Linked DNA regions of Homo sapiens: region 1 is linked to region 2. The links come from fine-mapping of genetic effects on plasma protein levels. A gene starts in region 2. The other region holds a variant in brackets. All regions are shown on one strand. Distances are from middle to middle.

Region 1 (15,855 bases), 62 kb after region 2:
AGGAGTGGGTAAGTGTGGAGTATTTTTGTAGGGGAAATGTTTGACATCTTGTTTATAAATTATAGTAAAGACATATGCTTTCAACAGTGAAAGGCAGGAAAGGGAAGATAACCATTGATAAGATGGAAAAGTTCAGTAGTATTTCCAGGTAAAGGGGGAAATGAAATGAATGACAACTTTTTTCTTTTTTTCTTTTTGAGACAGAATCTTGCTCTGTCACCCAGGCTGGAGTGCAGTGGTGGGATCTTGGCTCAGTGTTACCTCCGCCTCCTGGGTTCAAATGATTCTTGTGCCTCAGACTCAAGAGTACTTGGGATTATAGGAGTGTGCCACCATGCCCAGATAATTTTTTGGTAGTTTTAGTAGAGATGGAGTTTCGCCATTTTGGCCAGGCTGGTCTCGAACTCCTGGCCTCAAGTGATCTGCCTGCCTCAGCCTCCCAAAGTGCTGCGATTACAGGCATGAGCCAGCGTACCTGGCCTGCACGCCAACTTTATCACACTAGTAAAATAAGGAAAAAGAAAAGAGAGCAATGTAAATAAGCAACAAACAAAATATAGATGGAAAGAACAAAATTAATATTTAGGTCATCTACTAAATGTGAATAAATTATGTAGTCTCATGAAAAGAAAACTGGAGTGGCTATATTAAGATCGAAGTCGACTTCATGTGAATTAACACAGGAACAGAAAATGAAACACCGCATGTTCTTGTAAGTGGGAGCTAAACAATGAATACATGTGGACACAAAGATGGGAACAATAGACAGGGGGTACTACTTGAGAGGGGAGGTTGGGAGGCGGGGTTGGGTTGAAAAACTACCTATTAGGTACTATGCGTACACACAGGTCAAAGGAGAAATAAGGGAAATCAGAAAAAAACATTTTGGAATGAATGAAGGTGTATGCAAAGTATTAGGTACTTTGCATACAAAGGATTCTTTGTACATCAAACCTCGGCAACACGCAATTTACGCATGCAACAAACCTGCACACATACCCCTGAATCTAAAATAAAAGTCAAGAGAAAAAAAAAACCCAAAAACAAAGTAGATTTCACACAAACAAGGAATATTAACAGAGATAGAAATATTTCATAAAGACAAACATGTAAATTCTTCAAGAAGACAGAACAGTCCTGCATTTGTAGGTGTTTAGCAACAGAGTTCTAAAATACATGAAGTACAAATGGTCAGAACTAAAATGGGAAATGTGCAAATCCACAATTATAGTTGCAGATTTCAACATTTGCCTTTCAATATCAATAAAACAAGTATACAGAAAAATAAGAAGGTTATAGAAGACTTGAATAACACTGTCAATTAACTTGACATAATTGGTACTTAGAGAACATGATACATATCAACTGCAGATTACACATTGAAGTGCCCTTGGAACATTCAGTAAAATAGACTATATGCTGGATAATAGAACAAGTCTCAATACATTTAAAAGATTTGAAACCATATGTCATGTGTTCTGTTTTGAAGACAGGGTCTCGCTTGCTCTGTCACCCAGGCTGAAGTGTTGGGATTGTAGCTCACTGCAGCCTCTATCTCTGGGCTCAAATGATTCTCTCACCTCAGCCTCCTGAGTAGCTGGGACTACAGGTACACTCTACCACATTCAGCTAATTTTTTTTTTTTTTAATTTTTAGTAGAGATGAGGTCTCACTATGTTGCCTAGGCTGGTCTTAAATTCCTGGCCTCAAGTGATTCATCCACTTTGGCCTCCCAAAATGCTAGGGTTATAGACGTGAGCCAGAGTTTCTGTGGAATTGCAATAGAAATCATTAACAAAAAGATAACTAGAAAAATTCCCCCAAACATTTGGAAATTAAGCAACATCTAAATTACACATAGGTCAAAGGAGAAATAAGGGAAATTAGAAAAACATTTTGGAATGAATGAAAGTGTAAACACAGTCTGTTACATTTGTGGAATGCAGCTAAAGCAGTATATAGAGAGGAATTTGTACCTGCAAAAGTTTTTATTAGAAAAGAGAAAAGATGTAAATGTTCTAAATTTCCATAGCCAGACTACCTCTCTAGATTCCTTCTCTCTGGGCAGGGCATCTCTGAAAGAAAGGCAGCATCCCCAGTCAGGGGCTTATAGATAAAACTCCCATCTTCCTGGGACAGAGCACCTGGGGGAATGGGCATCTGTGGGCACAGCTTCAGCTGACTTAAACATTCCTGCCTGCCGGCTCTGAAGAGAGCAGCAGATCTCCCAGCACACCACTCGAGCTCTGCTAAGGGACAGACTGCCTCCTCAAGTGGGTCCCTGACCCCCGTGCCTCCTGACTAGGAGACACCTCCCATCAGGGGTCGACAGACAGCTCATACAGGAGAGCTCCAGCTGACATCTGGTGGATACCCCTCTGGGATGAAGCTTCCAGAGGAAGGAACAGGTGGTAATCTTTGCTGATCTGCAGCCTCCAGTGGTGATACCCAGGCAAATAGGGTCTGGAGTGGACCTCCAGCAAACTCCAGCAGACCTGCAGCAGAGGGGCCTGTTAGAACAAAAACTAACAAACAGAAAGGAATAGGATCACCATCAACAAAAAGGACGTCCATACAGAAACCCCATCCAAAGGTCACCAACATCAAAGACCAAAGGTAGATAAATCCACGAAGATAAAGAAAAACCAGCGCAAAAAGGCTGAAAATTCCAAAAACAAGAACGCCTCTTCTTCTCCAGAGGATCACAACTCCTCGCCAGCAAGGGAACAAAACTGGATGGAGAATGAGTTTGATGAATTAACAGAAGTAGGCTTCAGAAGGTGGGTAATAACAAACTCCTCCAAGCTAAAGAAGCATGTTCTAACCCAATGCAAGGAAGCTAAGAACCTTGAAAAAAGGTTAGGGCAATTGCTAACTAGAATAACCAGTTTAGAGAAGAATGTGAAAGAGCTGATGGAGCTGAAAAACAAAGCACAAGAACTTTGTGAAGCATACACAAGTATCAATAGCCAAATCGATCAAGCAGAAGAAAGCATATCAGAGATTGAAGATCAACTTAATGAAATAAAGCATGAAGACAAGATTAGAGAAAAAAGAATGAAAAAGGAACAAACAAAGCCTCCAAGAAATATGGGACTATGTGAAAAGACCAAACCTGCGTTTGATTGGTGTACCTGAAAGTGATGGGGAGAATGGAACCAAGTTGGAAAACACTCTTCAGGATATTTTCCAGGAGAACTTCCCCAACCTAGCAAGACAGGCCAACATTCAAATTCAGGAAATACAGAGAACACCACAAAGATACTCCTTGAGAAGAGCAACCCCAAGACATATAATCGTCAGATTCACCAAGGTTGAAATGAAGGAAAAAGTGTTAAGGGCAGCCAGAGAGAAAGACTGAGTTACCCTCAAAGGGTAGCCTATCAGACTAACAGCAGATCTCTCAGCAGAAACCCTACAAGCCAGAAGAGAGTGGGGGCCAATATTCAACATTCTTAAAGAAAAGAATTTTCAACCCAGAATTTCATATCCAGCCAAACTAAGCTTCATAAGTGAAGGAGAAATAAAATTATTTACAGACAAGCAATTGCTGAGATATTTTGTCATCACCAGGCCTGCCTTACAAGAGCTCCTGAAGGAAGCTCTAAATATGGAAAGGAAAACCAGTACCAGCCACTGTAAAAACATACCAAATTGTAAAGACCATTGACACTATGAAGAAACTGCATCAACTAATGGGCAAAATAACCAGCTAGCATCATAATGACAAGATCAGATTCACACATAACAATATTAGCCTTAAGTGTAAATGCCCCAATTAAAAGACACAGACTGACAAATTGGATAAAGAGTCAAGACCCATCGGTGTGCTGTATTTAGGAGACCCAACTCATGTGCAAAGACACACATAGGCTCAAAACAAAGGGATGGAGGAGTATTTACCAAGCAAATGGAAGCCAAAAAAAAAAAAAAAGCAGGGGTTGCAATCCTAGTATCTGATAAAACAGACTTCAAACCAACAAAGATCAAAAAAGACAAAGAAGGACATTACATAATGTTAAAGAGATCAATGCAACAAGAAGAGCTAGCTATGCTAAATATATATGCACCCAATACAGGAGCACCCAGATTCGTAAAGCAAGTCTTTAGAGACCTACAAAGACACTTACACTCCCACGCAATAATAGTGGGAGACTTTAACACCCCACTGTCAATATCAGACAGATCAATGAGACAGAAAATTAACAAGGATATTCAGGACTTGAACTCAGCTCTGGACCAACAGGACCTAATAGACATCTACCGAACTCTCCACCCCCAAGCAACAGAATATACATTCTTCTCAGCACCACATGGCACTTGTCCTAAAATTGACCACATAATTGGAAGTAAAACACTCCTCAGCAAATGCAAAAGAATAGAAATCATAACGTCCCTCAGACCACAGTGCAATCAAATTAGAACTCAGGATTAAGAAACTCAGAACTGCACAACTACATGGAAACTGAACAACCTTCTCCTGAATGACTACTGGGTAAATAACGAAATTAAGGCAGAAATAAATAAGTTCTTTGAAACCAGTGAGAACAAAGACACGACATACCAGAATCTCTGGGACGCAGCCAAAGCAGTGTTTAGAGGGAAATTTATAGCACTAAATGCCCACAGGAGAAAGCAGGAAAGATCTAAAATCGACACCCTAACATCACAGTTAAAAGAACTAGAGAAGCAAGAGCAAACAAATTCAAAAGCTAGCAGACAAGAAATAATTAAGATCAGAGCAGAACTAAAGGAGATAGAGACATGAAAAACCCTTCAAAAAATCAGTGAATCCAGGAGCTGTTTTTTGAAAAGATTAAGAAAATAGACTGCTAGCTTGACTAACAAAGAAGAAAAGAGAGAAGAATCAAATAGACACAATAAAAAATGATAAAGGGGATATCACCACTGATCCCAAAGAAATAGAAACTGCCATCAGAGAATACTATAAACAACTCTACGCAAATAAACTAGAAAATCTAGAAGAAATGGATACATTCCTGAACACATACACCCTCCCAAGACTAAACGAGGGAAAAGTTGAATCCCTGAACAGACTAATAACGAGTTCTGAAATTGAGGCAGTAATTGATAGCCTATCAACCAAAAAAAAGCCCAGGCCCAGACAGATTCACAGCCGAATTCTACCAGAGGTACAAAGAGGAGCTGGTACCATTCCTTCTGAAACAATTCCAAACGACAGAAAAAGAGGGACTTCCCCCTAACTCATTTGATGAGGCCAGCATCATCCTGACACCAAAACCTGGCAGAGACACAACAAAAAAAGAAAATTTCAGGCCAATATCCTTGATAAGCATCGATGCGAGAATCCTCAATAAAATACTGGCACACCGAATCCAGCAGCACATCTAAAAGCTTATCCACCACAATCGAGTTGGCTTCATCCCTGGGATGCAAGATGGGTTCAACATAACGGAAATCAATAAACGTAATCCATCACATAAACAGAACCAATGACAAAAACACATGATTATCTCAATAGATGCAGAAAAGGCCTTCAATAAAATTCAACAGCTCTTCATGCTAAAAACTCTAAATAAACTAGGTATTGGTGGAACTTATCTCAAGATAATAAGAGCTATGTATGACAGACCCACAGCCAATATCATACTGAATGGGAAAAAGCTGGAACCATTCCCTTTGAAAACTGGCACAAGACAAGGATGCCCTCTCTCACCACTCCTATTCAACCTAATATGGAAGTTTTGGCCAGGGCAATCAGACAAGAGAAAGAAATAAAGGGTATTCAAGTAGGAAGAGAGAAAGTCAAATTATCTCTGTTTGCAGATGACATGATTGTATATTTAGAAAGCCCCATCGTCTCAGCCCCAAATCTCCTTAAGCTGATAAGCAACTTCAGCAAAGTCTCAGGATACAAAATCAGTGTGCAAAAATCACAAGCATTCCTATACATCAATAATAGACTGTGCAAAAATTACAAGCACTCCTATACATAATAATAGACAAACTCATGAGAGCCAAATAACGAGTGAACTCCCATTCACAATTGCTACAAAGAGAATAAAATACCTAGGAATCCAACTTACAAGGGATGTGAAGGACCTCTTCAAGAACTACAAACCACTGCTCAAGGAAATAAGAGAGGACACAAATGGAAAACATTCCATGCTCATGGATAGGAAGAGTCAATATAGTGAAAATGGCCATATTGCTGAAAGTAATTTATAGATTCAATACTATCCCCATCAAGCTACCATTGACTTTCTTCACAGAATTAGAAAAAACTACTTTAAATTTCATATGGAGCCAAAAAAGAGCCCATATAACCAAGACAGCCCCAAGCAAAAAGAACAAAGCTGGAGGCATCTTGCTACCTGACTTCAAACTATACTACAAGGCTACAGTAACCAAAACAGCATGATACCAAAACAGATATATAGACCAATGGAACAGAACAGAGGCCTCAGAAATAACGCCACACATCTGCAACCATCTGATCTTTGAGAAACCTGACAAAAACAAACAATGGGGAAAGGATTCCCTATTTAATAAATGGTGTCGGGAAAACTGGCTAGCCATATGCAGAAAACTGAAACTGGACCCCTTCCTTATACCTTATACAAAAATTAATTGAAGATGGATTAAAGACTTAAACGTAAGACCTAAAACCATAAAAACCCTAGAAGAAAACCTAGGCAATACCATTCAGGAGATAGGTATGGGCAAAGACTTCATGACTAAAACACCAAAGGCAAAGGCAACAAAAGCCAAAATTGACAAATGGGATCTAATTAAACTAAAGAGCTTCTGCACAGCAAAAGAAACTATCATCAGAGTGAACAGGCAACCTACAGAATGGGAGAAAATTTTTGCAATCTATCCATCTGACAAAGGACTAATACCCAGAATCTACAAAGACCAAATTTACAAGAAAAAAAGCAAACAACCCCATCAAAAAGTGGGCAAAGGATATGAACAGACACTTCTCAAAAGAAGACATTTATGCAGCCAAAAAACATGAAAAAAAGTTAATCATCACTGGTCATTAGAGAAATGCAAGTCAAAACCACAATGAGATACCATCTCCCACCAGTTAGAACGGTGATCATTAAAAAGGCAGGAAACAACAGATGCTGGAGAGGATGTGGAGAAATAGGAACGCTTTTACACTGTTGGTAGGAGTGTAAATAAGTTCAATCATTGTGGAAGACAGTGGGGTGACTCAAGGTTCTAGAACCAGAAATACCATTTGACCCAGCAATCCCATTACTGGGTGTATACCCAAAGGATTATAAATCATTCTGCTGTAAAGACACATGCACACATATGTTTATTGCAGCACTACTCACAATAGCAAAGACTTGGAACCAACCCAAATGCCCATCGATGATAGACTGGATAAAGAAAATGTGGCACATATACACCATGGAATACTGTGCAGCCATAGAAACAAATGAGTTCATGTCCTTTGCAGGGACATGATGAGGCTGGAAACCACCATTCTCAGCAAACTATCACAGGAACAAAACCAAACATTGCATGTTTTCACTCATAAGTGGGAGTTGAACAGTTAGAACACATGAACACAGGGAGGGGAACATCGCATACTGGGGCCTGTTGGGAGGGTGGGGGGCTAGGGGAGGGACAGCATTAGGAGAAATACCTAATGTAGATGACGGCTTGATGGGTGCGGCAAACCACCATGGCACGTGTGTACCTGTGTAACAAACCTACATGTTCTGCACATGTATCCCAGAACTTAAAGTATAAAAACAAACAAAAAAACCAGAAGGCCGGGCGTGGTGGCTCACACCTGTAATCCCAGCATTTTGGGATGCTGAGGTGGGTAGATCACGAGATCAGGAGTTCAAACCAGCCTGGCCAAGATGGTGAAACCCCGTCTCTACTAAAAATAGAAAAATTAGCCGGGCATGGTGGTGGGCGCCTGTAATCCCAGCTACTCAGGAGGCTGAGGCAGAGAATTGCTGGAACCCAGGAGGCGGAGGTTGCAGTTGACCGAGATTGCGCCATTGCACTCCAGCCTGGGCAACAGGGCGAAACTCCGTCTCAAAAAAAAAAAATGTGGTACATATACTCCGTGGAATACTACCACCTGTAAAAATGAATGCAGTTGTGTCCTTTGAGCAGCATGGATGCAGGGAGGCCATTATTCTAAGTGAATTAATGCAGTAACAGAAAACCAAATACCACATACTCTCACTTACAAGTAGGAACTAATCATTGAGTACACATGGACACAAGGGAGCAACAGACACCGGGACCTGCTTGAGGGTGGAGAGTGGGAGGAGAGTAAGGATTGAAAAACTGCCTTTCAGGTATTACGCTGATTACTTGGGTGATGGAATTATCTGTACATCAAACCCCTGTGAAACCTGCACATGGACCCCTTGAACCTAAAATAAAAGTTAGAAAAAAGGGCAAAAATAATAACAAGCACATTACAAAATAATATGTGCAGATGATCAGTAAACACCAGAAAGGGTACTCAGAATCTTTTTTATCTTATTTTTTTGAGACAGTTTCTCCCTCTGTCATCCAAGCTGCAGTACAGTGGCACCATCTTGGCTCATGGCAACCTCTGCTTCCTGGGCTCAAGCAATCCTTCTACCTTAACCTCCCAAGTAGCTGGGACT[A/C]CAGGCGCATACCACCACACTTGGCTAAGTTTTTTGTGTTTTTGTAGAGACTAGGTTTCACTATGTTGCTTAGGCTGGTCTTGAACTCCTGGGCTTAAATGATCCACCTGCCTTGGCCTCCCAAAGTGCTGAGATTATAGACATAAGCCACTGTGCCCAGCCTCTGAAAATCTTTAAATATCAGAAAAATACAAATTTATACCATAATGAGATAGAATAGTGCATACCTACTGGAATAAGCAATAAAAAGTCTGATTATACCAAATGTGGGAACTGATGTGGAATAAGTAGAACTCTCATATCTTGAAAATGTGATTGTAAGGTGGAAACAGTTTGGCAGTTTCTTAAAAATTTAAGTGCATATCTATACTTTAATCCAGTGATTTCATTTTGTATATTTATTCAAGAGAAATGTAGATACCTGTCCACAGAAAGATTTATACGTGTCTTAACTTCATTTATAAAAGCCTATAATTACGTAATCCAAGTGTCCACCAATAAACAAGTTGTGTATTTTCATACAAGAGAATACTACTCAGCAGTGTGAAGGAGCAAACTATTGATACAATACTTAGAAAAGTTATGTTGATAAAAAGAAGCAAGACACAAAAGTGTCTTTGATTCCATTAAGTCAAATTCTGTAAAACTGATCTATAGTGGGAAAGATAAGATCAATGTTTGAGGTGGAGGTTGGGAGAGATTACCTGGAGAGGGATATAAGAGAGCTTTTGGGGGTGAGGAAACTGTTTTATATCCTGTTTGAGGAGATTACACTTTGTGTATACATTTGTCAAAGCTTATCAAATTGTACACATCAGTGGCTGCATTTTATTATATGTAAATTACTTTTCACTAAGATTGATTAAAGATTTGGTTGGAAGGAATCAAATTGGTATAGCAGTCACTAAACTAAATGCAAACAGATTATATATTGTGGCAGTAAAATACTGTCAGGTTAGTTTAAGAAACAAAACCTAACCAAGTCCTGTTTCGAAGAAGCAAACTATTGAAAACTTGATAAGTAAAGCTGAAAATAAAAGAGTTGAATAAAGATGTAAGATACAGGAAAATAACCAAAAGATCAATAATTATAATAATATTAGACAAGGTGAAATTTAAATATCAAACTAGGTAAGTGGATTGTTAACATCATAAAAGGCATATTTTATGAAAATCCAATAGCCATAATCTTGTATGGCTAAAAAGCTTAACACATAAAGCAAAAATAATCTGAGTAGTGTGGTAGAGCAGGCATGGTATGAGATTTATATATATATATAATATATATATTAAAAAATTATATATTATATATATATGTTTTTTTCTTTTGGAGACAGAGTTTTGCTCTTTCTCCCAGGCTGGAGTGAAGTGGTGCGATCTCAGCTCACTGCAGCCTCTGCCCCACAGGTTCAAGCGATTCTCCTCCCTCAGCCTCCCGAGTAGCTGGGATTATAGGCACTTGCCACCATGCCTGGCTAATTTTTTTTTCTTTTTTTTTTTTGTATTTTTAGTAGAGATGGGTTTTTGCCACGTTGGCTAGGCTGGTCTCAAACTCCCGACCTCGTGATCCACCCACCTCAGCCTCCCAAAGTGCTGGGGATTACAGGTGTGAGCCACTACGCCTGGCCAGGATTTCAGTACATGTTTATCAGAATTAGGTCTAGTAGATGAAAATACGAGTATAAGGAATTGAATAGTGCATTTAATAATCTTAATCATATGTGTATAGAAATAGTGTTTTAAATTCCTGGAATAGATCTTTTTTTAATGTCCAAGGAACTGTGGTCAAAGTTTAATGTCCAAGGTACTTGACCATAAAGAAAATCTTAACAGATGAGAAAAGTTGAGATTTTATAGGCTGCGTTGTCTGGTAATAATACTGGTAAAGTAGAAAGAAATAACTATGAGACGAGTCCTTTGAAACCTGCCTCCTGTTCCCCTATTCTCCCTATATTTGTTTCCACTGCAGAATTACCTCAGTATTCTTGAACTAAGAAATTGGTGGTGGCAAGGTCTTTATTCTTCATATTTTAGCCTTACATTATTGAAATGCCTTTCAGTTTGATGCCTTTGTGTGACTGCCAGTGAACTAGGTTTTCCTAGTGTACAGGTGTTGCCCATGCCCACACCTAGATTATCAATGATACTGTAAAACTTGACCTGAAATTTTAGGTTGATATTCCTGGCCTTTCTCTTTCAAATTCCTTTAAACTTTTAGTAACCACTTGTTGGCCATTTATTAGAACACAGGGAATTTTGAATTAAAAACTCACATAATTTAAAAGAAACAGGAACACCTAGTGCTGAGAGGATGTGGGGAATAGCATATTCTCATACATTGCTGGTGCAAATGTGAATTGTTACAGCCTTTTGGAAAATAATTTGACAGCTTGGTTAACAATTAAAATTCATATTCCTTTTGGCCTAGTATACCTCCTCCTAAGATTTCTACTCTTAGACATAAAAGCCCAAGTAAGGCCATATGTATAGGGATATTTATTGCAGTGATGTGCATATTGTCAGTCAACTGAAAACAAAATGAACATTAGTAGGGAAAGGCAGGAAAAAGTGATACCTCCATAGGTGGGATACTATGCTACATAAAGAAAAAATAAATTAGACTAATACCAGATTAGTTTGAGAAATTTCCGTAAGGTTTTGTTGAGTGAGCAAAGAAAGATGCAGAAAAGTATATAATAATTTGTGTAACCAAAAAATAATTTAAGAGAACCATGCCTATATCATAGGCTCATGAGTATGAAGAAAAGTATTTAAGAATTCCTGGTAGGTGGTTAAATGTTTACCTTGGTCAAGGGTGGGTCAGAGTAACTGGGGAAGTGGGTTAAAACAACAACAACAACAACAACAACAAGATTCGTCTGTGATCATATCTATGCATTATCTGTAAAATTATATAAATATGTATGTTTAAAGATACTAAGTAAACATTTAAAATAAAACTGACCTGTTTCCCAGCCTGGACAACATAGCAAGACTCATCTCTAAAAAACAAAATTAATTAAAATAAATTAGCTAGGCATAGTGGTGTGTGCCTGTAGTCTCAGCTACTCCAGAGGCTTTGGTAGGAGGATCACCTAAGCCCAGGAGTTTGAGGCTGGAGTGAGCCATTGAGCTTGCCACTGCACTCCAGCCTGGGTGTCAGTGTGAGATTCTGTCTCAAAAACAAAAAACAAAAAACACAAATATTTGTTTTATAAAACTGATGCTGATTTGCAAACCTAAGTGTTCACGTGAAGTCCACTGAAACTCTTAGGAGCAGAAGCAGCATAGTGGAGAGCCATAAAACCTTTTATATTAGGCCCCAAGACAAAGAATCAAGGAAGTGTGTACACACACACGGAATAAAACAATAACCAGTGGGAAATTTACCTAAGAAACTAGAAGCCTAGAGTAAGGTGGTTTTTGTGGGTGGTTGATACTGTTTTTCAGGGACTTTGCATTCCTTTGATTTGTCATTCTTGGTGTTGGCTTTGTGTTCAGGCATAGCACAGGCGTTGTGTTCAGGCTGTAGTACTTCCAGCTGTAAAATCCAGCTATAGCAAAGTCCAGATAGAGAAGAATGGTCTCTTCTTGGATGTTTATCATAGGTTGTTTTTTAAAAAGCATTTGCTAAGGCTGAGTTTGGGTTACAACTTGATTATAGTATTGTAGAGGAAGGTGTTATTGGAAGGAAAAGCATAATTAGGCAAAGGAAGAAGTTGAGCTCCAATGCAGGCCTGACAAAGGGGAACTGTGGGGGCAGGATTGCTTATTTGAGTTGTCCCATGTTGGATTGAAATGCTTGGGCCTTTATACTCTTTTTTTTTTTGAGACAGAGTCTCACTCTGTCGCCCAGGCTGGAGTGCAGTGGCGCGATCTTGGCTCACTGCAAGCTCTGCCTCCTGGGTTCACGCTATTCTCCTGCCTCAACCTCCCGAGTAGCTGGGACTACAGGCGCCCACCACCACGCCCAGCTAATTTTTTGTAATTTTAGTAGAGACGGGGTTTCACTGTGTTAGCCAGGATGGTCTCGATCTCCTGACCTCGTGATCCACCCGCCTTGGCCTCCCAAAGTGCTGGGATTACAGGCGTGAGCCACCACGCCCAGCCTATGGTATGGGCCTCTTCATGGTGTGGGCTGCCATGGGAAGGGCATGACCTGTAGCAAGGCAGCCCCTGAAGGAATTGATGTTCTGCTGACCACATTCCCTGCTGCTGCTGGCAGCAAGTCCTTCCTTGAAGAGGAGATCTAGGTGGCATGTCTCCCTGTCCACACACTTTCCTAAGAATAAGAAAATATTTCCTGGAAATCATCCATCAGATGTGCCCTCACATCTAAGTATTAGATTACATTCTGTGTCAGAGATTCATGGTTACACATCATAGCCTTTTTCTACTTCTCTAGTAAAAAGAATTCTGATTTTTTGATGGGTACATGATCATCTGGGATAACGGCTGCATTTTTCAGCCTTCCTCTACTTGTAGACATGTCAGTAACTTCTGGCTAATCGAATGTAAGTTGAATTTTCATGTGTGACTTAACAGAGGGAGAGAGGGTGTACCCCCCCGTTTTCTTTTCCTCCTTCCTGCTGGGTAGAATTTGGGTATAATAGCTGGAGCTTGAGCCGCTATCTTGGATTATGAGGTAGAAGCCACATGTTGGGGATGACAGAGCAATAGTATAGAACAGCATTAGGTCCCTGATGATCATGGAAATGCATTGCATGCTCTGGATTGCTTATCTTTGGGTTTTTTTTATCTTGGTGGTTAGTCCATTACTATTTAGGTTTTTCTGACAGTTGCATTAAAGCCTAATCTTTTTTCTACATCTATATCTATATATGATGTATATCTATATCTATATAGATACATATTCTTTTTTAAAAATAGATATGAGGGTGTTGCTGTGTTGGCCAGCCTGATCTTGAACTCATGGCCTCAAGCAGTCCTCCTGCCTCAGCCTCCAAACTGCTGTGATTTCAGGCAAGAGCCACCATGCCTGGTCCACACCTAATTTTAATTGATACAGATTTCTAATCAGTCAGTGGCAAGGGGCATGGGAAAACATGATTGGCTTCGACTAACATTTTGGGGTGGAATGGATTTTGGGGAGTAGGGCATGGATACATCTCTATCAGGCAAGTACAGCAGAGGAAGAGAAAGGCAAGAACATCAGGGAGTTTGCAGGATATGATTCTCGTGATGGATTATGGAGTCTTAACTAGGTATGTGAGAAAATGAAATGTGTGGATGGTAGGTGGTGAACAGTGAAGAAATGATAGTTCAATGGATTGGTGGTCTCCATGGGGCCAAAGTCTCATTGGAAAGGGGGAATAAACTGGAGAGATGAGATAGTAGTCAGAGGTCAGGGTGCTTTTTTTGTGGTAATGTTGTTACTGGTAATAGCAAGGGCCAGAGAAGGGGATGGCTAAAGAGGGGTGGAGGAAAAGATAGTTAATGGTGAGGTTAAGAAATGGAGAGACTGGATTTTGGATGGAACATCTTAGATGTTGATGCAGATGAGTGGAAGAGAGTGAACGATTTGTTAATATCTTTAGTGCATTAGGAGTAGCTGGGAGATGACTCAGAAGGTAAGGGAGGCAGATCCAGAAGCGAGCATGTGTTCAGAGTGGCTGATGTTAATGAAAGAGGGAAGAAAAATATCTGGAAACAGCCATGATGAAGGAAATAGCGTCCTTCTTAAATATTAAACATTTTTATATAGTAACAGATACTTGCTGGTGGCAGTGCTCATGCCTGTAAACCCAGCATTTTGGGAGGCCAAGATAGGAGGATTGCTTGAGGCCAGAAGTTCAAGCGTGGGCAACATCGTGAGACTCTGTTTCTACAAAAAATAAATTTAAGAAATTTATCGCTGGGTGTGAGGGCTCAAGCCTGTAATTCTGGTGCTTTGGGAAGCCGAGATGGGAGGATCTTTTGAGGCCAGGAATTTGAGACCAGCGTGGGCAACATAGCGAGACCTGTCTTTACCAAAAGGAAAAAGGATGACATAAAATTAAGATAAGATTTAGGTATGTTTTGTTCATTCCTGTTGGTTTTAATATTTTTCTGTCTTCTTTTTTAATGTATGCAATAAGTATTTGTTTCATCTAAATTTATGCAATCTGAATATAACTAGTCATTTTCTACTGGTTATAGTGTTTGTTAATGTACCCATTATGTTTAATTTGTATTATATTAAGAATTAAGAAATATTAATATATGAAAATATATAAAATATATAAAAATATATGAAATTAATATAGCAGACTTAAGTTTTCTTTCTTGATTTAAATTACAGACTAACTGGATCTTCTGGGTTTGTGACAGATGGACCTGGAAATTATAAATACAAAACGAAGTGCACGTGGCTCATTGAAGGACAGTAAGTAGAAATGGCTGACTTAATTTTTGTTTTTTTAGCATAGAAGTCAGTGTGACATTAGTTTTCCCACAAGTAAAATTAACAATCTGTAGCATAAAGTTCTTAAAACATTACTTGATAACCTTTCATTTGACAAGTGAATTTTATCTTAGCCTTCATTAATTTAAAAGTTTCATGTTGATTTAATGCTGCAAATGAATTGTACACACCACAAATTTGTGTATTTCCAACTGTAATAGTTCAGAAACGGTTACACACACACACACACACACACACACACACACACACACATATATATTTATTTATTTTTATGGGACAGAGTTTTGCTCTTGTCACCCAGGCTGGAGTGCAGTGGCGTGATCTCCGCTCACTGCAACCTCCGCCTCCCAGGTTCAAGCGATTCTCCTGACTCAGCTCCTGAGCAGCTAGGATTACAGGTGCATGCCACCACGCCAGGCTAATTTTGTATTTTTAGTAGAGAAGGGGTTTCACCATGTTAACCAGGATGGTCTCGAACTCCTGACCTCAAGTGATCCGCTCGCCTCAGCCTTCCAAAGTGCTGGGATTACAGGTGTGAGCCACTGCGCCCAGCCACGGTTCCATATTTTTAATGGTTTGCTTAAAGCATTAGAAAATTGCAATATTGTGTTATTTTTCTAAGTATCTATTTTTGTTGTGGATAAGAAAATTGTAATAACTGTTATTGCCTAAATGATCCCTTCTCTGGACCCACTGTGTCCCTCTGGCTGTTGGCCTTTTTTCTCCTTGTCTTCATGGGAGACTTTTAAAGCAGTACTTCTCAGACTTTTTTGGTCTCAGGACCTCTTTACACTT
Region 2 (14,523 bases):
AACGCCCTGTACTGTTTACTTACCCCCCAAGAGCCACCCTACATCGGGCATAATTGTAATTCGGGAGAGTTTCTTTAAAACATAAAATCATTTATTTATTTATTTATTTATTTATTTATTTATTTATTTATTTATTTAGAGACAGAGTCTCACTCTGTCCCCCTGGCTGGAGTGCAGTGGTGCGATCTTGGCCCCCTGCAACCACTACCTCCCAGGTTCAAGCGTTTCTCATGCCTCAGCCTCACGAGTAGCTGGGATTACAGGCTCCCACCACCATACCCAGCTAATTTTTGTATTTTTAGTAGAGATGGGATTTCATCATGTTGGCCAGGCTGGTCTTGAGCTCCTGGCCTCAAGTGATCTGCCCACCTCGGCCTCTCAAAGTGCTGGGATTACAGGTGTGAGCCACCGCGCCTGACCCACAACATGAAATCAATATCTAGGTGCAGATTTCAAACAATATAGAGAATTGGTTTGTGAGAATGACATCATTCAGTTGGAACAAAGTCCAGCTTTGGCAGCCCTGTTGGGAAAGGTAGATCTGGCATCTACCTGTGTGGAAAGCAGAGAGGATGCTGTCTGGAAAGAATGCTGGTGTGTGTGTGTGTGTGCGTGTGTGTGTGTGTGTGTGTGTGTGTGTGTGTGTGGCAGGAGGCTCTCGGCTCATACACTCTTTGTGACTATAGGGGAGGCTGGGCTTGACTTCTTGCCATCAGGCTCCTGAATCTCCAGAGATCTTGCGGAACTTTCCACATGAAAAAAACACCAAAAAACAAAAAATGACAGCCTCCCTTAAAATGCATATGGGAGACAGGGACTGTTGTCTGGGGACCCAGACTATGGCCACAGCCACAGACTTCAAAGCTGCCTCAAGCCTAGGACTCCAGCTTGTGGACATCTTGCAGGTCTGCTTTCTGTCCTCTTTGAACCTTGTCCACAATCAGTGCCCTTGGCCCTGCCTTGCTTGGGTTCATAGCTAAACTCTCCCTGTTCCTTGAGCCATTTTTGATATGCCAATCTGGCTGCAGTCTGTTTAACTTGGTAAACACTGTAATCTGGGCTATACCTCTAGTCACAGGCTTTTGGTCAGCTAGTTCTGCACACAGGGTTATGTGCCACCCTTCCCCCATCTTGGGGTTCCTGCCACAGTCACAGTGCAAGTGAACGCAAGAACCACTTCACCATAAAAAAGGCTGCTTCACTGCCAGTGGCTTCTCAGATAATGGGAGTTGGTGCCAGTGGCTTTGGCAGCAACATGAGATAGGGACCTCTGTGCAGGCATCAGAGGCCTTGATCACAACCTTGGCAGTGGTCTGTATCAGGGCCTTGAGTAAGCATGAGAAACAGAGATGGTGCTTTTGGTGGTGCCAGGACAATGTGCTTTGTTCTTTTTTTTGTTTTATTTTTTTGAGATGGAGTTTCACTCTTGTTGCCCAGGCTGGAGTGCAGTGATATGATCTCGGCTCACTGCAACCTCCACCTCCTGGGTTCAAGCAATTCTTTTTTTTTTTTTTTTTGAGACGGAGTCTTGCTCTGTTGCCAGGCTGGAGTGCAGTGGCACAATCTCGGCTCACTGCAAACTCCGCCTCCCGGGTTCACGCCATTCTCCTGCCTCAGCCTCCTGAGTAGCTGGGACTACAGGTTCCCGCCACCACGCCCGGCTCATTTTTTGTATTTTTGGTAGAGATGGGGTTTCACCATGTTAGCCAGGATGGTCTCGATCTCCTGACCTTGTGATCAGCCCGCCTCGCCCTCCCAAAGTGCTGGGATTACAGGCGTAAGCCACCGCGCCCTGCCGGGTTCAAGCAATTCTTGTGCCTCAGCCTCCCAAGGAGCTGGGATTATAGGCGCACGCTGCCATGCCTGGCTAATTTTTTGTATCTTCAGTAGAGTTGGGGTTTTGCCATGTTGGGCATTGCTTGTCTCAAATTCCTGACCTCAGGTGATCCGCCTGCCTCGTCCTCCCAAAGTGCTGGGATTACAGGCGTGAACTACTGCACCCGGCCAATTTCTTTAGTTAACAATTAGAATACTTATCTGTTCTTATTAGGAAAAAAACCAATGTCTTCCTCTTGAGACCCTCTCTTTTCTACTGAATAAACCCAAGAAATCTGGGGCTTATTAAGTCTAAAACAGCCAGTCCAGCTTCCAAACAAGTCAGCCAAGCCCAGGTTGTGTATCTAACTTGTGAAAAACAGGTCACCTGGAGGGGACACTGTCTGAGAGCCACCTCACATCTACATGGAGATGGCGCAAAGGAATGTTGCCAGTTGTGGCAACCGTGAAAATTCATCGTTCAGCTCTCCTGCCGTGGGGAGCGGAGTTGACTGGCAGCCCCAGCTGCTCCCCCTCCGGGTCCCCCACTGCGTTTGTGCTACTGCAGGCTGATTCCTGCAAGATGCTGCTGCTCTGACAGACAACTCTGGCTCCAGGACTCCCCACTGGCCTGGGAGAGCCTTCATTGAAACTGCACTGACATCTGACACTCTTCTTAACCAATCTTTTCTTCCCGCTTTCCTTCACAGCTGTCAGATTTTTATTCCTGTCTGAATCCTCTCTTGCCATTTCCTGTTTGCTTCCGCTTTATCCTTCACAGACATTTCCCCCAGTAAAGCCCTTGTATGTCTAATTTGGTTTTGGCATCTGTTTCTCAGTAGACCTCCCAGGCGTACATGGTGCTGGAGCTGGTTCCCACTGGCTTGTGAGGGCTGAGCCTATGTCTCTCTTTCCGATTCCACACTCAGTGACATCATGATGGGAGCTCGAAATAGGTCATGGTGGGAGTATTTACAACATAGAAATCAACTAGTGCTATGCATGAAGGCTTTTTCTTCTCAGTGAGCTGGTTGCTAAACATTTATGAGCAAACCTCTGGTATCTACCCAATAGAAATGTATGTATACTCACCAAAATACCTGTATTTGATTTCCAGATGATCATAGCATCATGATTCATAGTAATCTCAAACTGGAAACTGCCCAAATGTCCAGCAAGAGAATTAATCAATAAATTGTCATATCATGATGTGTGTATATAAGTTTCTATTTTATTTTTTTTAGACAAGGTTTCCCTCTGTCGCTCAGGCTAGGGTGCAGTGGTGTGATCACTGCAGCCTCAAACTCCTGGTCTCAAGTGATCCTCGTGGCTCAGCCTGTCAAGTAGCTTGGACTACTGGTGCATGCCACCATACTCTGCTAATTTTTATTTTTACTTTTGAGACAGCTTCTTGCTCTGTTGCTCAGGCTAGAGTGCAGTGGTACGATCATGGCTCACTGCAGCCTCGATCTCCTGGGCTCCAGAAATCCTCCTCTTTAGCGTCCTAAGTAGCTGGGACTACAGGTATGCACCATCGTGCCTGGCTAATTTAAAACAATTTTTCTTTTGTAAAGACAGGAGTCTTGCTATTGTCGCCTAGGTTGGTCACAAACTCCTGGCCTCAAGCCATCCTCCTGCCTTGGCCTACCAAAGCATTAGGGTTACAGCTGTGAGTCACCACGCTCGGCCCATAGTACTTTTTTTTTTTTTTGAGACAGAGCCCTGCTCTGTCGCCCAGGCTGGATTGCAGTGGAGCAATCTTGGCTCACTGCAACCTCTGCTTCCTGGGTTCAAGCAATTCTCCTGCCTCAGCCTCCCAAGTAGCTGAGGTTACAGGCACCCGCCACCATGGCCAGCTAATTTTTGTATTTTAGTAGAGATGAGTTTTCGCCATGTTTGCCAGGCTGGTCTCAAACTCCTGACCTCAGGTGATCTGCCTGCTTCGGCCTCCCAAAGTGCTGGGATTACAGGCATGAACCAGTGTACCCGGCCCCATTGTATGTTTATACCACGTTTTGTTTACCCATTCATCTATCTACAGACACCTGAGTTGCTTCCACCTCCTGGCTCTTGTGAATAATGTTACAATAAACATGGAAATACACCTATCTCTTCAAAATCCTGCTTTCAATTATTTGGGAAATATACCCAGAAGTGAACAGCTGGATCAAATGGTAATTCTATTTTTAACTTGTTGAGGAGCCCCCATACTGTTTTTCATAGTGGCTGCACCATTTTATATTACCACTAACAGTGCACAAGGGTTCCAATTTCTCTACATCCTCACCAACACTTGTTATTGTCTGTTTGTCTGACTTCTTTGTTTTTAGAGATGGGGGTCTTGCCATGTTGTTGCTCAGGCTGGCCTCAAACTCCTGGGCTCAAGCAATCCTCCTGTGTTCGCCTTACGAATAGCTGGACTACAGGCACACACCACCACACCACCATGCCAGTATTGTCTGTTTTTTGTGTGTGTTTGTTTTTTTTTTTTTTTGAGACAGAGTTTCTCTCTCTTGTCGCCTAGGTTGGAGTGTAATGGCGCGATCTCAGCTCACTGCAACCTCCGCCTCCCGGGTTCAAACGAGTCTCCTGCCTCAGTCTGCTGAGTAGCTGGGATTACAGGCATGCGCCACCACACCCAGCTAATTTTTGTATTTTTACTAGAGATGAAGTTTTGCCACGTTGGCCAGGCTGGTCTCGGACTCCTGACCTCAGGTGATCCACCCACCTCAGCCTCTCAAAGTGCTGGGATTACAGGGGTGAGCCACCATGCCCGGCCTGTTTTTTTTTCCTTTTCTTCTTCTTTTATTTTAAATACAAGCTATTCTAATGGCATGAGGAAAGAGAGGAATTTTGATATCCTTTTTCATTTCTGCCTCCCAGAGCATAGATCAGTGTCTGGTATACAGCAGCCACTCAAAAAATATAAGTTGCTTAAATGAATACATTGAGTGAATTGACTACCTGTGTAGTGTGTGAAGTGGGCTGAATGGTGGCTCCCCCAAAAGATTTGTCCATGTTCTAATCCTTGGAACCTCTGGATGTTACTGTATTTGGAAAAAAAGGTCTTTGCAAATGTTGCCAGGCACGTTGGCTCATGCCTGTAATCCTAGCACTTTGCAGGCCAAGGCGGTAGGATCACCTGAGGTCAGGAGTTCGAGACTAGCCTGGCCAACATGTGAAACCCCGTCTCTACTAAAAAAAATACAAAAATTAGCTGGGCGTGGTGACGGTTACCTGTAGTCCCAGCTACTTGGGAGGCTGAGGCATGAAAATCGCTTGAACCCAGGAGGCAGAGGTTACAGTGAGCCAAGATCATGCCATTTGCATTCCAGCCTGGGCAACAGAGTGAGACTCTGTCTCAAAAAAAAAAAAAAAAAAAAAAAGGCTTTGCGAATGTAATTAATTAAGGAGCTTGAGGTGAGTTCATCCTGGATCATCCAGGTGGGCCCTAAATCCAATAAATGTCCTTATAGGAGATACACACAGAAGACGGACATAGAGGGGAGGTGACGTGAAGGTGGAGGCAGATATGGGATTTGTGACCACGAGCCAAGGAAGCCAAGGAATGTGGACAGCCACCAGGAGCTGGAACAGGCAGGGAAGGGTTCTTCCCTAGAGTCTCCAGAAGCCTAGCCTGCTGATACCCTGATTTCAGACTTCTGGTCTCCAGAACTGTGAGAGAATACATTTCTGTAGGTTGGTTTTTGTTGTTGTTTTAAAACTTTTATTGTTTTTAGCAATAATCATGTGTGTTCATTTTAGGAATATGGAATACACAAGTAAGCAGATAAAAAAAATCTTTTATAATCCTCTGTGGAGAGATTGTACCTTTTGTCTTTCACCCTTCACGAGTTTTTATGTGCATATATGTGATATCCAAATGTACTCTTACCTTTCAAAAATGTTATTCACAATTGGGCATGGTGGTATGTGCCTGTAGTCCCAGCTACTGGGAAGGCTGAGGCAGGAGGATCGCTTCAGCCCAGGAGTTTGAGGCTGTAGTATGCGATTATCACATCTGTGAATAGACACAGCACTTCAGCCCGGGCAACGTAGCAAGACCCTGTCCCTAAAAACTAAAAAATTAAAATGATATTAACATATTACTTAGTAACCCTTTTTTCATTTTATATCCTATCAGGAACCTCTTTTTTTTTTTTTTTTTTTTTTTTACAAATGAGTAAATCTCTTCTATAAAAGAGATTTGAAGATTGGTTCAAATATGGTAAACAATGAGATATGGGTAAATGATGCATCTGAAGCCACTAACAGCAACAGGTTAAAAGTAGAAAGATGGACAAAGGTATATCAGAAAAATGCTAATAAAAAGAAAGTTATATAGCATTGTTAATATCACATAAAATAAAAATAAAAGTAAATTGCATTAAATAGGGGCAAGGATGGTTTTGATCAATTTTCCAGTACATCCCTATAAGTTTGTTTCTTACTCTCCTTATCTCGTCTATTTCATCCACTTCTCTAAACATATCTTCATTGCTTAAATGCCTCTTATGTACATCTTTATATTCTGGAGAGATGGAATTAGCTTTCTCTAAAAGTTCCTTCTGCATTTTCCTCCTCCTCTGGCTTTTCCTCAAAATTTGGTTCACTATTTTCTGGCCTTCCTTCCATTTTTGGACAGGGTTTCATCTCATGTCTGTGGGGCTTCTCTTTCTTCCTTCTATTCTTTCTTTCTTTTTCCTTCCTTCCTTTTGTTTTCCTTTCTTCCCTCTTTCCTTTCTTTTTTCCTGCTTATTCCCCTTTGAGTGCAATAACTTCTGGCACTGATCAGGTAAGTTTCTTTCTCCTCTTTGTCTAGCCTTGCATTGTGCTAAGAACAACAGACCTGCAAAATTCTCACAAGTTGACTCTTCCCTTCGTTGGCCCCCAGCACCTTGGCCAACACTGCTGAAGGAAGCTGGTACCCAGGTGGGAACAAGAACCAGACTAGTAGGACTTCTGCACTGTCAACTTTTAAATTTCTGTGGTTTTATGCCACCAAGTTTGTGGAAATTTATTATAGCAGTCACAGGAAACTAATATGTCATCTGTAATTAGGAGAAATTATAAGGGATTTTAATCCAAAAGGATGGCTTCAGTTTGGGAACTTCTAATTTGAAGTACTTCATGGCCATATTTAGCAAAGTCATTTGTCTTTTAACAGTAGTACTGTTTTCATAGTATCTTATCTATACACAAGAGAAAATTTTTGTTCTCTGTTGTAGAAATTTGGGGGAGGGGGCATGAATCTAGCTCATCCAATAGAAATTTCAAGTCTTCTGCCTTTAAATTGATGTGCTCATCCCAGTGCAGCGTCTTGTCCCTTGAGCTGACATAAAGGTGAACTCCTGTACTTGTGGGACTTGTCTGAGGAGGCCACCAGGAGCTCTGCCAACAGCTCAGAGGTATAACTTTATGCTCCCAGATCAGGGACTCCTAAACACTTTCTCTTACAGTCTGCCAAGGACTATTGGAATCTTATTGCTGGTTGGTTGACAGTGGGATATCCATTGGAGCTTTCAATGGCACTTTATTCCTACCTAGAACCCTCTCAGTTGTGTTTGTTCCAAACCTTCAGGATCAACCTCTTTCACAGGCAACGTAGTACCTTACCTTCTAGGTGAGATTTTAACACCTATAATTAGAGAATTGCTTGGTCACACATTGACTAAAAGTATAAGGATAACTTTGGGACAATAAAATGTATCGATGTTTCAAACAGTGCAGAATGAGGACCGGTGATGTTTGCGGGAAAGTCAGATGGTCAATCAGATCTTACTTGAGCAGTATTCAATCTTTGCTTTCTAGTAGGTATTTGATAAACAAACATTTGTTATATGTATTACACATACATGGAGCTATCTATTTGTATCTATTGGTACCCCTCCCAAATTTCCTTTATAGGATCCTTCTTACTGCTGTGAATGTTGTCTGCTGAAAGAGATGTGTGTACAAAATGCTGCTCCCTTACCTCAAAGTGGAATCAATTCTATGGTACAATTCATGCTCTAGGGCTCTCCATAGGATCAGGCTGAAGCTCAACTCTAGATAAGACCAGACCACATCTTTTCTCAACCCCCTCCTGGGCTCTATCTTGCTTCCTTCACTGTGTTTCTTCCGAGAGCAATCTTCCAATGAATTATGCACTCAGATCCTGTTTCAGGGTTCTGCTTCTAGGGAATCTGACCAAAGACACTGCATGAGTAAAAGCCAAAAATTATAAAATCCATCTATGTCCATGACTTGGAGACAATGCAAGCAAAGAAACAGGAAGAGATGACATGAAATCAGAGAAAGGGCCAAGGTGAGTAAGATGCCTTACTTAAGTGAAAAAGAATAGGCATAGGCACCTTCAAACCATCCTGCACTAACCTAGTGGAGACAAACCCTTTTGGTCATGCAGTTGGCAAGAACAATGTTATTTTAGTGTCTGGACTTAGAGTAATTTGTATCAAAGCCTGGGTATTCTTTGCCACTGGCATTACAGTTTCTGGGACCTGGAAATGACCACCATGACAAAGACCAGTGGAAAAAAAGGGATTTCAGGCAGAACTGCTGCAGAATCTTGCTGATAAGGCACTGGGGTACAACAGAGGCACTTCTGAAGCTACGGTGACTACGGTGACCTCCTTCATGAGAAGCAACTGGACAATGATACTAGTGTATTACATATAGATGACTAGTTGTAGATTATACATTTATATACAATTATACTGTCGTTCTTAATTCTTAATCAAGTCCACATCACAAGACTTATTCTTGTCCTTGGAGGAACCAGGGTACAGAGTATTCTGGTAATTTATTATTGTGTAACGAACTGTCCCCAGTTGGCTCATTTATTTGCTTATGTATCTGCAGTTTGGGGCGGGTTCAGCAGGAACAACACCCCCCTGCTTCATGATTGGGGCCCCAACTGGGAAGACTTGAATGGCTGGGGGCTGGCTTCCTCACAGCATGGTGGTCTCAGGGTAGCTGGACATCTTTTATGGCAAGTGTTCCAAGACACTTCAGGAGGAAGCTGCAAGACTTCTTATGACCTAGCATAAAGTCCCATTTCTGGGACCTCAGAAATCCCAGTACATCACTTCCACCATAGTCTATCAGTCAAGCAAATCACTAAGGCCAGGCTAGATTCAGAGTGGGGTGGGGGTGGGGGTGGGGGTGGGGCCGGGGCCAAGGGTTAGACCTGATCTCTCCATAGAAGGAATGTAAGAGAATTTGCAGCCATCTTTAATCTATCACACAGACATAGAATGTGTAGGGGACTTTTTGATAAACGCAGTAAAGGAAAAAGAAGATAGCAGGTAAGATTTTGTTTCTTTGTTTATTTGTTTTTAGAGACAGGGTCTTGATCTGTTGCCCAGGCTGGAGTGCAGTGGTCCAAACATAGCTTACTGCAGCCTCAAACTCCTGGGCTCTGTGATCCCCCTGCCCCAGCCTCCCAAGTAGCTGGGACTACACATGCACGCCACCACATCTGACTAATTTTTTAAAAAATTTTTTGTAGAGACAAGGTCTCACTATGTTGTCCAGGCTGGTCTCAAACTCCTGGCCTCAGGTGATCCTCCCACCTTGGCCTCCCAAAGCACTGGGATTACAGGCATGAGCCACTGCACCCAGCGTGTTTGTTTTTTAAGGACAAAATAATTTGAGCATGTTTGAAAGCTAAGGAAAAAGAACCAGAGAAGAGAGTAGATTAAGGAAGTAAGAAAGAATGTTTGCTGCAGCAAGATTCTAAGGCTTCAGAGTAGCAATATCTAGTCTAGGGATTGCTGTTCTTCAGATGCACACCTTTTCTGTTATCCCTGAATGTTGGTAAAATCATGTGAAACTTCACAGTGTGGGTTCAGTCTTGCTGTGGGGAGGGAAGGGAAGGAAAGGGCTGGTTCACTTCTGGCCTGGAAGATTAGGGGGAGCAATGTCTCCTACAGCTAGGGCATGGCCTATGCCAGCCTCCCCATCTGATGGGGTCCTGCCAGAGGGTAGGGCCATGTCTTCAATTTCAAAATCCTACATGGCAAAAACATAACCTGCAAACCAGAATGTCAGTGCTAGGGCCTAGGCCGAACAATAGTTTTCCTGTAGGAATGGGGAGTATGTGTGGATGTAGAGCTGGGGGTAAGGCTTTTGTGCAATTCAGCTTCACCAGGCTTGAAGAAGATGCAGTGAGGACAGTCAGGACCTGAGTATGAGAGTGGGACCTGGGTATGAGTGTGGAAATCCATCTTAGAACCTTAAAATTCCATACTCTGAGGTAAAGCTGAGAGGCTCCACAGGTCTATGAGGGTTTTTCTTTGTTTCCCAGGGACTGTAAGGTGCCCAGATTCTGAGGTAGGTGCCATAGGAATATTCCTCATAGCACAAGCATTATGTCGGACAATGTTCTGCTTATCTATTACTGAGTAACAAACCTCTCTAAAACTTAGAGGCTTAAAATAACATAAATCATAATTTATGAAAAATTATAAATAATTCATCACTTAAGGGTTAAATGATAAATGAGTTATTTCTTAGGATTTTGGATAAGTCACAGTTAGGAAAGACCTGTTACTGTTGTAGGTAACATGGAACAGCCCAGACGGTTGGAATAACCCAACCCAGATAGCTTCTTCACTCAATGACTGATCCCTTAGCTAGGATGGCTCCACCAGCTGAGCGGCCCAGCTCTCCCTCTCCAAGTCCAAGTGGTCTCTGCACATGGTTTCTCTCCAGCAAGGTGGCTAACGGGGTGCAGCTCATGACCACCAACAGCTCAAAATCAAGGCTGCCAGGTCTTTTTTTTTTTTTGAGACAGAGTCTCGCTCTGTCCCCCAGGCTGGAGTGCAGTGGCGCGATCACGACTCTCTGCAACCTCTGCCTCCTGGATTCAAGCGACTCTCCTGAGTAGCTGGGATTACAGGTGTGTGCCACCACGCCCGGCTAATTTTTGTATTTTTTGTAGAGACAGGGTTTCACCACGTCGATCAGGGTGGTCTCGAACTTCTGACCTCGTGATCTGCCCGCCTCGGCCTCCCAAGGTGCTGGGATTACAGACGTGAGCCACCGTGCCCGGCCAAGGCTGCCAGGTCTTTTTTAAGCTCAGAGCTAGAAACAAGACATTGCTACTCCTACCAACTTCTTCTATTGGTGAAATTGAGTCATGGTTTCTCATGGTCTCAATCATGACCCAGCCCAGATTCCAGGGTCAAGGACCATAAAAGGCTACATTGATGGAAGACATGTCTCATTGAGGGACACCAGAGTAACAACTACCAGACAAGAAGGGGCAGGTCTGTGTGAGCGCCATTTCCTAATTCTATATTGCCCACTCTTCAGAGAAGATGGTTGGAGGGCAAATTGTGGGGAGCAAGGTAACTCCAAACTTTTACAGAATTAAAGGTAGGGGGTCTGGTCAGCTACAGTCCATCTGTTATCAAGAGGCCTGGCTGTGTGTCTTCATTCAGTTTATTAGGCATTTACTGAGCACAGCCTACATGCCAGGTTCTTCATTTTTTGACACAGGGTCTTGTGTTGCCCAGGCTGGAGTGCAGTGCTGCGACTGCGGCTCACTGCAGCCTTGACCTCTCCAGACTCAAGCGATCCTCCTGCCTCAGCCTCTGGAGTAGCTGGGGATACAGGCGCGCACCACCATGCTCGGCTAATTTTTGTATTTTTAGTAGAGACAGTGTCTCACCCTGTTGGCCAGGCTGGTCTCGGATCCCAGAGATCAAGTGATCCGCCTGCCTCAGTTTCCCAAAGTGCTGGGATTACAGGCGTAAGCCTCCGCGCCCGGCCTATGCCAGGTTCTACATGTGTTCTTTCTTGACTCTTGTGTTACAGAGGCTCGAATGAAGCCTGGCTTCTACAGTACCGCACCCAGCACCTCGCTGCGATGCAGCCTCCTGTACCCTTTCCGTCCGGCAGCTGGAGTTAGGGCAGAGTGCCGGGTCTCTAGGAGGGCAACACTCAACGCAGTCGGCTCCTAGGCATCCAGTGGGGCTGCAACCCCGCCGCCGGGGACGAAAGGCGAAGGGGGAAAACTAGAGCTTTCGCCGGCCGGGACAGCGCAGCCGGGTTTCAGCTCGTTCTACGGTCCACGTCAGAAGATCGCCTCCGGCGCCGCGGACGCCGGAGACCACTGTCTGCGCCCCCGCACGCACGCACCCACGTACTCGCGCACGCGCGCGCCGGCCCCGCCCACCGCCCCGCTGTGGCCCCTTTGGACCGCACGAGCCACCGTCCGCACAGCCCCGCCCCGCACGGCCAGGCGAAGCGGAGCCGGCCGTGCGGTGTGTGTGTATGTGTTCGCGGGGCGCCGTCTCAGCCCCGGGAAGATGGTGGCTGCAGCGGCGGCAACTGAGGCAAGGCTGAGGAGGAGGACGGCGGCGACGGCAGCGCTCGCGGGCAGGAGCGGCGGGCCGCACTGGGACTGGGACGTGACCAGGGCTGGGAGGCCGGGGCTGGGGGCCGGGCTGCGCCTCCCGCGGCTGCTGTCTCCACCGCTGCGGCCACGGCTGCTGCTGCTGCTGTTGTTGCTCTCGCCGCCGCTGCTGCTGCTGCTGCTGCCCTGTGAGGCCGAGGCCGCGGCGGCGGCGGCGGCGGTGTCGGGCTCAGCCGCAGCCGAGGCCAAGGAATGTGACCGGCCCTGTGTCAACGGCGGTCGCTGCAACCCTGGCACCGGCCAGTGCGTCTGCCCCGCCGGCTGGGTGGGCGAGCAATGCCAGCACTGCGGGGGCCGCTTCAGGTGAGTGGCGGGTGGTGTCGGAGGGTCGGGTCCAACCAGAGGCTGGGGCTGAGGGGCGTTCGAGACGGCTCCAGGTCAGAGGGAGATGCTGGACAGAAAGTGGAGAGGGTAGGGCCGCCCTATGGGGTTTGAGGGCCATTTGCTTCCGGGGAGATCATCGTCTCTGGCCTGGGGTCTTTCTCTGTTGGAAGGTGAAAAGGTGTGGGGCAAGGGTGGGGGCACCCCGACGGTATTTGGGTGCTTAGGTTAGTTAGATGGGAAGAATGCTGAGGGACCCAAAGAGCATCAAAGCCGATCGCTCTAAAACTCGGCGTGTTTCAGCTAAACGAGGTATCCAAGGAAAGGTGGTCGAGCCAGGTTTGCTTGAACACTTCCTTTTAACATCCACATGTGCCCTAGGACCCGATGAGTTCCCCGATGCACTGGAGATGTGGGGTGCTCTGAAGAAACAGGGCCCTGGAAATGCTTTGTTGGCTGGAGATAAAAGGGAAAGGGTAGCATTGTAAGATATTAGGGATAGAAGGACCAGTGGTCCTTCTAAAGGAAAGTGAGGAAACTAGCCTTTTGGCAAAAGCTCCCTGGAGGTGGCAAATTGGAATAGGGTCTGTGGTGAAGAGGGAATGGAAGGAGATTCCTATTTGCCTTGGTTTCTGGACAATATGAAGTTCTGAATTGGCTTAGTTTGGGGCAGTTCCTCTTGGAGAAATCAATAAATTAATTAGCAGTTATCGTTATTTGCTTCAGTTGTGCAATGATTTTCCAGATAATACAGACAGATTAGCCAGACTTTGGCCTTGTCCACAGGGAGTTTGGAATATAGCAAGAGAAAGATAATGTGCGCACATAACCCTAGTCATAAGGGTTACAGAGTCATTCACGCCTTTGACAGGTATTTAGCTTACTGAACACATGTCTGATGTGGGGGAGTGGGGAAATGTGAACAAGACAGACAGGGCCTCTGCTCTCATTGACCTTAACATTCTAGTGGGAGCAACAGGCACTTAACAAGTAAATAAATGAGAGAAATAAACATGGTAATTTCAGGTAATGGTAAATGCTATCAAGAAAATAAAAACAGCGTGGTCTGATAGAGAATTATAACCGGTGGTGACTCTTGGAGAGGGTTCTCATTTGAAATGACATTTGATCTGAGACCTGAATGAGGCAACAGGGAACTTGTGGGAATTCAGGGATGGAGAGGTTGTGGCTAGCTGGAGGGATGCAAGGAGGACTTTGAGGAGGCGGTAACATTGGATTTGAGCATGTAAGGTTAAGTAGGATTTGGAAATGTGGAGCTGGAAAAAAATTACAGATGGAAAGAAGGGTGCAAACAAAGTTGTGGAGGCTGGAAAGTAAAGTTTTGCTGCTGCCTATGTGGAAGAGAGTTGTGAGAGAGGAGTTTGGAATAGCAAAATTGTAGACTTAGGTAATATTAGGTCTTCTGAGGAACTCAGAGAACGTTGAGCAGATGAGCTCTTTAGTTTTATGGATGGAGAAACCAAGTTACTTCAGGACCACTGATGCAGTGAAGCTGCTTTTGTAACTTAGGGTGTTCTGATTTATGAATTCCATTAACCTACATGTATTTGTTGAGGGCTCCTATGTTTTAGGTTGTGAGATACAGTGGTATACAAGACAGGCACAGTCCTGCTCTTACGGAGCTCACATTTCAGCTTGGGAGTAAAAAAATCCAACAAAAATTTTATTGTAATTTTGTTTAAGGCTGTGGAGGTAAAGAGCAGGAGACAAACAGAGGACTTGACTTAGTCTAGGGGTAAGGTAAGTCACTGAGGAAGCGATGTGAAGTCTGAGGGGTGAGATGGTACTACCTGCGTGAGGGGTGGGGTGCTGAGGGGCCAGCAGGTACAGAGGCTTGGGGTTGAAGCGGATGGAAGGCCAGGTGGCAGGAGCAGAGAGAGCAAAGGGGAGCTTGGCAAGACTGGAGAGAAAGGCGGGAAGCCAGGCCAAGTGGAGATCTGTGG

Which allele goes with the higher level. Alleles are on the strand shown, and positions count from the first base shown. The strength of an association depends on the size of the effect and on how common the allele is.
In carriers of allele A in region 1, the plasma level of the protein whose gene starts at base 12,042 in region 2 tends to be higher than with C alone (weak association).

The links. PIP is the posterior inclusion probability: the model's chance that the variant is causal. The UK Biobank Pharma Proteomics Project read protein levels with antibody pairs (Olink). The fine-mapping took linkage between variants from a reference panel, not from the people measured, so its PIPs are less certain.
Region 1: its variant is fine-mapped to the plasma level of the ATRN protein (UK Biobank, PIP above 0.99).

Annotation. Positions count from the first base shown.
Region 1 is chr20:3,520,316-3,536,170 of GRCh38, forward strand. It overlaps ATRN (attractin), which reads left to right. Exons shown (of 29, transcript NM_139321.3): 2 at 14,938-15,021. Among named protein-coding and RNA genes, the nearest start is that of ATRN, 57 kb to the left of the region's middle. The variant A/C (reference allele first, on the strand shown) is at 8,637.
Region 2 is chr20:3,458,977-3,473,499 of GRCh38, forward strand. ATRN (attractin) reads left to right here and starts at 12,042. Exons shown (of 29, transcript NM_139321.3): 1 at 12,042-12,541. The coding sequence starts at 12,132. It also overlaps the pseudogene TCEAL9P1. RefSeq lists an enhancer at 11,629-11,768 and a silencer at 11,869-12,428.